Homo sapiens: one gene and its partner. The protein of the gene in region 2 interacts with the protein of the main gene of each other region in a biochemical or structural test. Each region holds a gene or a part of one and is shown on either strand. Other genes may lie near its edges.

Region 1 (3,603 bases), on a different chromosome or scaffold from region 2:
TTAGCATTATCTTAAAACCACAAAAAACAATAACTTTAGACCTAATTGGTTTCATGACTTATTGAGGAGGCGAGGAATAGGTTAAAGCTGCTTTGCATACATTTTGGAATAGTCTCTTTTGTCTAGTAAGGATGGATAAGTTTGTTAATAACCAGTATTCACATGGGTAGAAAAAAAGTGTCTTGATTTTTAATCCTACAAGTAGTAAAGGAATGGTAGTCAGAAGTTGAATCGTACTTTTAATGCCTCAGGCAGGATAGAATAGTATTGTTTTGTTTTGTATCCCAATATGCCTAACTACTTCTCTCTCTCTCCTTTCTGTTTTGCTTCTCATCCTTTCACCCATTACAGTCTCAGTATGTGTGTTACACCAGGAGGTTGCCTTGGCAGGTCAGAGGATCTGTCACAGTGAAGGCACTGTGGTACCCTTTGTTTTTTAGGCAAGGATGACACATGCTAGTCAACTTATTTCCATTTGTTGTTCCCTCCACTTGGCACTAAATGAGACTTAACCATTTTTGAATCAAAGTTTATAAATTTCTTACAAAAATTAAGGTTTTTATTCTCTATAATAAGCACATGAGAAAGACTGGTTTTAAATTTTAAACTGTGGAGTGACGTAAAAACATGTTTAATTTTAATTATTTGCTTTCTTTTGTTCGTCTTGTAAGTTATTAATGTATTAATACTGGTAACTTCTAGATTGGAGGAATGATTTATCCTAATGTTTCTTTTTTAAAAAAAACTATCAGTCATTCATATGGCATATGCTAATCAAGGCTCTGCGGTATTTTTTTTCTTATGTTTTTTAATGAAGCAGCTCTTTTCATGATCTAGCAGTCTGTGTTACTATCAGTACGTAAACAGTAAGGACTCAAATTTTAAGATTAAAACAAGTTCATTTTGTTAACATCATGTTTTGTTGCATCTTGCAGCTTCTTGGTGAATTTTTGGATGAAGCCATTAAATTAATTGCTTGCCATCATGAGCAGAAGCAAGCGTGACAACAATTTTTATAGTGTAGAGATTGGAGATTCTACATTCACAGTCCTGAAACGATATCAGAATTTAAAACCTATAGGCTCAGGAGCTCAAGGAATAGTATGGTAAGTGTTTACTTCCAAAAATTAGGCAAAGAATCATTAACTGCTACCTTTTCTCCTCTCGTAATTTAGATACCTTGGCAAATATTTAACTTGCTTTGAAAAATTAAATTAAAACTAAAAATTAAACGAAAACTATTCCACAGTAAATTGTTTGCTTCAGGATCAATGGTCTTTTCTTTATTATTATTATTAAAGGTTGAGTATCCCTTATCTGAAATGCTTAGGACCAGAAGTGTCAGATTTTGGAATATTTGCATTGGTTGAGCATTCCAAATTCAAATCAGAAATACTTCAGTGAACATTTCCTTTGAGCATCATGTCAGTGCCCCCAAAATTTAGATTCTCGAGCATTTTAGATTTCATATTTTCAGATTTGGGATAATAACCTGTATTATTCATAAGATACAACTCTATAAACTAGCACTGCCATCTTTAAGTATAAACTATGATTAAATACTTGGGCATAGCCATTGAAGACAAATATCTCTATCAGCAAAGAATAAGTGGCATGCTTGTTAATTTCATGTATACATGTATTCCCATAGATAATTGTTTAATAAGAAGCTTCACTTAGTCATCACTTTCACACTATAATGAAGCGTGGAATTTCAGAAATCTTATTCTATACTGGGGAATGAAGTCAGCTAATATCTCACTGTGTGTGTTTCAAAATTCATCCATATGTTTAAAATTGATTTATTAGCTAATTTCTACAAAAGCCTCAGGCTATATCAGCATAATTCTTTATAAACTGAAATGCAGATCACTCTTTGGGATAGTTCTGATACTGATTGCAGATCACTAAATTAGCATAATAATAAACTAGTGTTTTGGGGAATTATAAGCCTCACTCAAGAATAATTATATTTTTATTACCTCTTCTTGAAACAAATTTCAGAATCTATTCTAAACAAAATGTAAACTGTTAAGTATTTATAATCCAGTATTTCTCCTAGGTTCTAAAAAAACTGTTTTACATGTGCACAGGGAGTCATGCATAGGATTGGTGTTTGCAGCACCATTTATAACAGCAAAAATTGGAAATAGCATCAAATCTATCAACAGAAGAATAAAAAATTGTGATACAGTCATGCTGTGAAATACTATATAACATTTTAAACGAACTGGAGCCATATGTGTCAACAAGGATAACCTCAGAAATGTAGTGCTGGGCTTCAAAGCAAGATGTAGAATATATATATACATCATTATACCATTTACATGTAGCTTAAAATATGCAAAGCAGTACCATATATTTATGGATTATATATATGTACAAAAGATTAAAACATGCATAAATACCAAACTTAGGATGTTGTTTATCTCTGAGAAAATAGAGAAAAGAAAGGAGGTTTGACCTATAATATTATATTTCTTTCTAAAAAATTCAGAGCAAGCCGGGCGCGGTGGCTCACGCCTATAATCCCCGCACTTTGGGAGGCCGAGGTGGGTGGATCATGAGGTCAGGAGTTCAAGACCAGCCTGGCCAACATGGTGAAACCCTGTCTGTACTCAAAATACAAAAATTAGCTGGGCATGGTGGCACATGCCTGTAATCCCAGCTACTTGGGAGGCGGAGGCAGGAGAATAGCTTGAACCCGGGAGGTGGAGGTTGTGGTGAGCTGAGATGGTGTCACTGCACTCCAGCCTGGGTGATAGAGTGAGACTCCGTCTAAAAAAAAAAAAAAAATCAGAGCAATTATGGTAACGTATTAAGATTTAATAAATTTGCATAATAGAATGGCATTTATTATCTTTCCTGCATTCTTGAAGTAATTTACAATATCAAAAATTATAGAAGTTGGAGTCATTTTGTAAGCCGTTTTGACTGGCCTGTTCTCATTGTAACCAACCACATTTAACCAACCATAAATTAAATTTAAAGAAAATCATATTATATAGTCAGTATTAGGATTCTGAAAGCCAGCTCTCTGTTCAGATTTTGTTTTTTGTTTTTTGTTTTTTTGTTTTTTTGTTTTTTTTTGAGACAGAGTCTCACTCTGTCGCCCAGGCTAGAGTGCAGTGGCGTGATCTTGGCTCACTGCAAGCTCCGCCTCCCGGGTTCACGCCATTCTCCCGCCTCAGCCTCCGGAGTAGCTGGGGCTACAGGTGCCTGCCACCACGCCCGGCTAATTTGTGTGTGTGTGTGTGTGTGTGTGTGTGTGTGTGTGTGTGTATTTTTAGTAGAGACAGGGTTTCACCATGTTAGCCGGGATGGTCTCGATCTCCTGATCTCGTGATCTACCCGCCTCGGCCTCCCAAAGTGCTGGGATTACAGGCGTGAGCCACTGCGCCTGGCCCTTCTGTATTTATTTTATTGTGTCCAAAAGGATAGAAGTAATGTGTTTACATAGAATTATTCAGCAAATCTTTTGAGTAGAATTTATATGCTTTTTTTTTTTTTGAGGGAGTCTACCAGGCTGGAGTGCGGTGGTGCGATCTTGGCTCACTGCAACTTCCGCCTCCCAGGTTCAAGTGATTCCCTTGCCTTAGCCTC
Region 2 (3,608 bases):
GCTGCGGGGAAGAGCTCTAGGGGAAGATCCCGAGGGGACCCTCATAACCCTTCCCGCCGAGCAGCCCTGGCCCTAGGCCAGCCCACAGCCCAGCGGGGCACTCCCCAGAAACCCTTATGTACAGACACAGGGTACGAGCAGGGGCAGTGGGTGAGGAGGCATCGTGAGGCTCAGGTCAAGAGTGAAGCAGTGGGCCGGGCACGGTGGCTCACGCCTGTAATCCCAGCACTTTGGGAGGCCAAGGCGGGCAGATCATCTGAGGCAGGAGTTTGAGACCAGTCTGGCCAACATGGTGAAACCTCATCTCTACTAAAAATACAAAAAATTAGCAGGGCGTGGTTGTGGATGCCTATAATCCCAGCTACTCAGGAGGCTGAGGCAGGAGAATTGCTTGAACCAGGGAGTCGGAGGTTGCAGTGAGCCAAGATTGGGCCACCGCACTCCAGCCTGGCAACAGAGCGAGACTCCGTCTCAAAAAAAACGAAGCAGTTGCTCTCCACTCACCCTCCTGGCCCTGCTGGGGAGCCAACTCCAGGGACGCCAATGCTGTGCCCAGGCTGCACAGACGGCCTCGGCAGGTGTGGGTGAGGCAGGGCCCTACCTCTGCAGGGGGACTCAGTCAGTGTCTCAAAGTGGTGGCGGAGGAACTTCTCCTGCTCCGGAGTCTGGGGTAGGGAGCTGCTGGGGACGCTGGGTCCCTCGGGCAGGGACAGCTCATCTTCTGTGGGACCTGCGCATCCTGACAGGGAAGGAGGGGAGGGACAAGAGGAGCCAACACCATGAGTCACAGCAGACGCCACCTGAAATGGAGAAAGCGGGCCCCACCCATCCCTGCCCTGTTGCCCGCAGGCTGAGAAGCAGGGATCCCCGTCTTCCAGGCTCAGTGGGCTCCAAGTGCAGGGCCTGTGCTTAGACATTGTGACTGGCCCTAAGCCAGGCCCGAGCAGCGAGTCCCCTGCGTGTCTGGCCCCTGCTTACCTGGGAAATGGGGCAGCGACGTGGCAAACCGAGGGGCAGGGTCAGGAGGCGGAGCTGGGGAGTGGATGGCTGCGAAGCTGCACTCCAGGTCGGCCTCTGACTCCCCCGAGTCTGAAGGACAGAGTCGGGGTCAGGAGCCCACAGCCTGACCATTCTGGTGAGCCAGGGCCAGGGCTACCCTTCCCTGGGCTCAGTTTCCCCATCTGGAGGAGGGATGGTAAGAGCAGCTGCCCCCCATTTTATGAATAAGGGAAGTTCCACATCAAGGAGGTGGCAGAGCTGGGCTCTCAGCTGTAGGCAGCTGGGCCCAGAATCCTCAGGCAGCAGCAGGGACCACATGTGTCTTCCTCGACAGACTCTGAGCTTCAGTACTGGGTCAAAGTCACCATCGGTGCCCAGAAAGGGGCTTGGCTGAACGCACAGACTGTCACAGGGTCCCTGCCTGCCCTGCACTCACCCTCAGGCGGGCTCTGGTCCTTTGGGCTGTCGGAGGACACCCTGAGGTAGGAGTCGCCCTGCTGGTCTCCAGGCCCGGCCTCCACCTCCTTCCTGCAATACTGGCTGCAGTGCCAGTGGGGGCAGAGAGGGAACAAGGACTTCAGCTGGAGACTCAACAGCTAGCCCCACCCGGAGCCCCTAGGCACCTGTACCCGCTGCTCCTGCAGGAGCACTGCGACAGCCTCCCCGCCTCCTCCAAATGCCCCCTCCTTCCCCCAGGTCAGGCCCTCCTGTACCCCACCTGGAACCAGGGAACTAAGGCTGGGCTCCTGCCCCATCCAGGCCTCAACTGTCCCCACTCCCACAAGCCCACTGGGAAGGCAGAGAGCACTTCTTCCAGGATGCAGCTATCAGCTGGGGGTTCCTCCAACTAAGGCTCCCTTGGTGGAAAGGACACCCACCTGTCTGTCCCTGTGACTGTCACTTCTGCCTCCAGAGAGTAGAGGATGAGCTCACTGGCCTCAGATGATTCCTTCTGCTGGGGCAGGAAGGAGGGGTGCCCGCGGCCAGCTTCCTGGGGACTCTCTGACTATGGGGAAGACAGCACAGCCATTCTGAGGCAGGCATGGCTGGGGCCACCAACAGTGCGCCAGGAACCATGCCAGCAGCCCCACTGCTGGAGGCTGTGAACCAGGGCCTGTGCCATGCCCTCCACTCGCAACCAGCTTGTCCTGGTCTGCCCCTGCATTATCAGTCCCTTTACAGATGAGGAAGAGGTGTGGCACCAAAAATAGGAGGCCCAACCCTCTACGTGTCTATTTATATCAAGTTCAAGAATAGGAAACCCAGTCCTTGGTGAGAGGTCAGAACACTGGTTATCCTGGTGCGGGGACCTGACTGGGAAGGGCAGAAGGGGGTTTCTATGAGGTAGAAAACACTCCAGATTTTGCCCAGGGTAGTGGACACACGTGAATTACACAGATAGTTCATCAAGCTGTATACCTAAAATCTGTGCATGTTACTGGATGTATATTATACCACAATGAAGATGACAAATTATAGGATAGGATAAAAATGAATTTTGTTTGGAAAATAGTAGAGAAAGAGCTAAAGTTGCACGGGCACCTCTAAGAGCCCAGGCCCTATACTTAAGCATGGATTCCTGTAAAAGCCCTCTGGGGCAGAAGAGATTGTTATTACCATTTAAAAACAAAACAAACAAAAAAATTTAAAAAATATTTTTGTAGAGGTGGGATCTTGCTACGTTGCCTAGGCTGGCCTTGAACTCCTCAAGTGATCGTTAAGTAATCCTCCTGCCTTGGCCTCCCCAAATGCTGGGATTACAGGTGTTAGCCACTGCCCCTGACCCCATTATGACTACTTTTTAGAAGACTGAAGCCCAAAGAGGTAAGCCTCTTACTCCAGGTCACACAACAGGAATGGGTAGGGTCAGGGCTCGATCTACCCAAATGTCCCCCACTTGGGTACAAGCCTGCTCTAGCATCCAAGCTCTTAACCCCCAAGTGACCCACTTTCCAAAGACTCCCTGTCTGCCTTGGGAAGTCTTGCTGTGCAACAGACCTGGGGCTCACCCTCCTGCCCTTCACCATCTCATGTAATCCTCCCTGCCCCCATGGAGTGGGAGTCAGCCTAAGGCGCCAGGCCCTGGGGCCGTCACGGTGCCGGGGCTATGGGCCAGGCTGCGGTGGAAGTGTGTACCTCACTCAGCAGGCTGGCCAGGCTCTGTGGCTCCAGTGAATCCAGAATGGAGTTCTCCAGACTCTCGGGCTTCATGGGGGTAAAGTAGCAATCCAGGTCCTGGGCATCCAGGATGGTCTTGAGGGGCTCTTGGCCGGCCCGCTCTGCCCAGCGGCCGTGGGGCTGGTAGCTGCGCTTGGCGTGGAAGGCCAAGCCATCTGCCACATCATCGTCCCCTAGCTTGAAGGATATCGGACAGTCAGGCAACTGGCTGAGTGCTCACTCACTGCAGGGAGCGACACGGACATTTCACACAGCCCATCTGGACTCTTGGCTTTCAATACCATTCAGAAACAACTTCCAGGTACATATCTCCAGCGTGAACCTTTCTCTGTTTTTTTTTTTTTTTTTTTTTTTGAGACGAAGTCTTGCTCTGTCTCCCAGGCTGGAGTGCAGTGGCGTGACCTTGGCTCACTGCAACCTCCACCTCTCAG

The links.
Region 1: of the proteins of WDR62 (region 2) and MAPK8, one has a biochemical effect on the other in vitro, tested with the Homo sapiens proteins (one study listed by BioGRID).

What each region holds. Positions count from the first base shown.
Region 1 is NC_000010.11:48,400,677-48,404,279, forward strand, and holds part of MAPK8 (mitogen-activated protein kinase 8), read left to right. Parts: intron 1-935; 5' UTR 936-984; coding exon 985-1,106; intron 1,107-3,603. UniProt on the Homo sapiens protein: Serine/threonine-protein kinase involved in various processes such as cell proliferation, differentiation, migration, transformation and programmed cell death.
Region 2 is NC_000019.10:36,099,145-36,102,752, reverse strand, and holds part of WDR62 (WD repeat-containing protein 62), read right to left. Parts: intron 3,355-3,608; coding exon 3,136-3,354; intron 2,006-3,135; coding exon 1,878-2,005; intron 1,540-1,877; coding exon 1,436-1,539; intron 1,090-1,435; coding exon 979-1,089; intron 740-978; coding exon 602-739; intron 17-601; coding exon 1-16. UniProt on the Homo sapiens protein: Required for cerebral cortical development. Plays a role in neuronal proliferation and migration.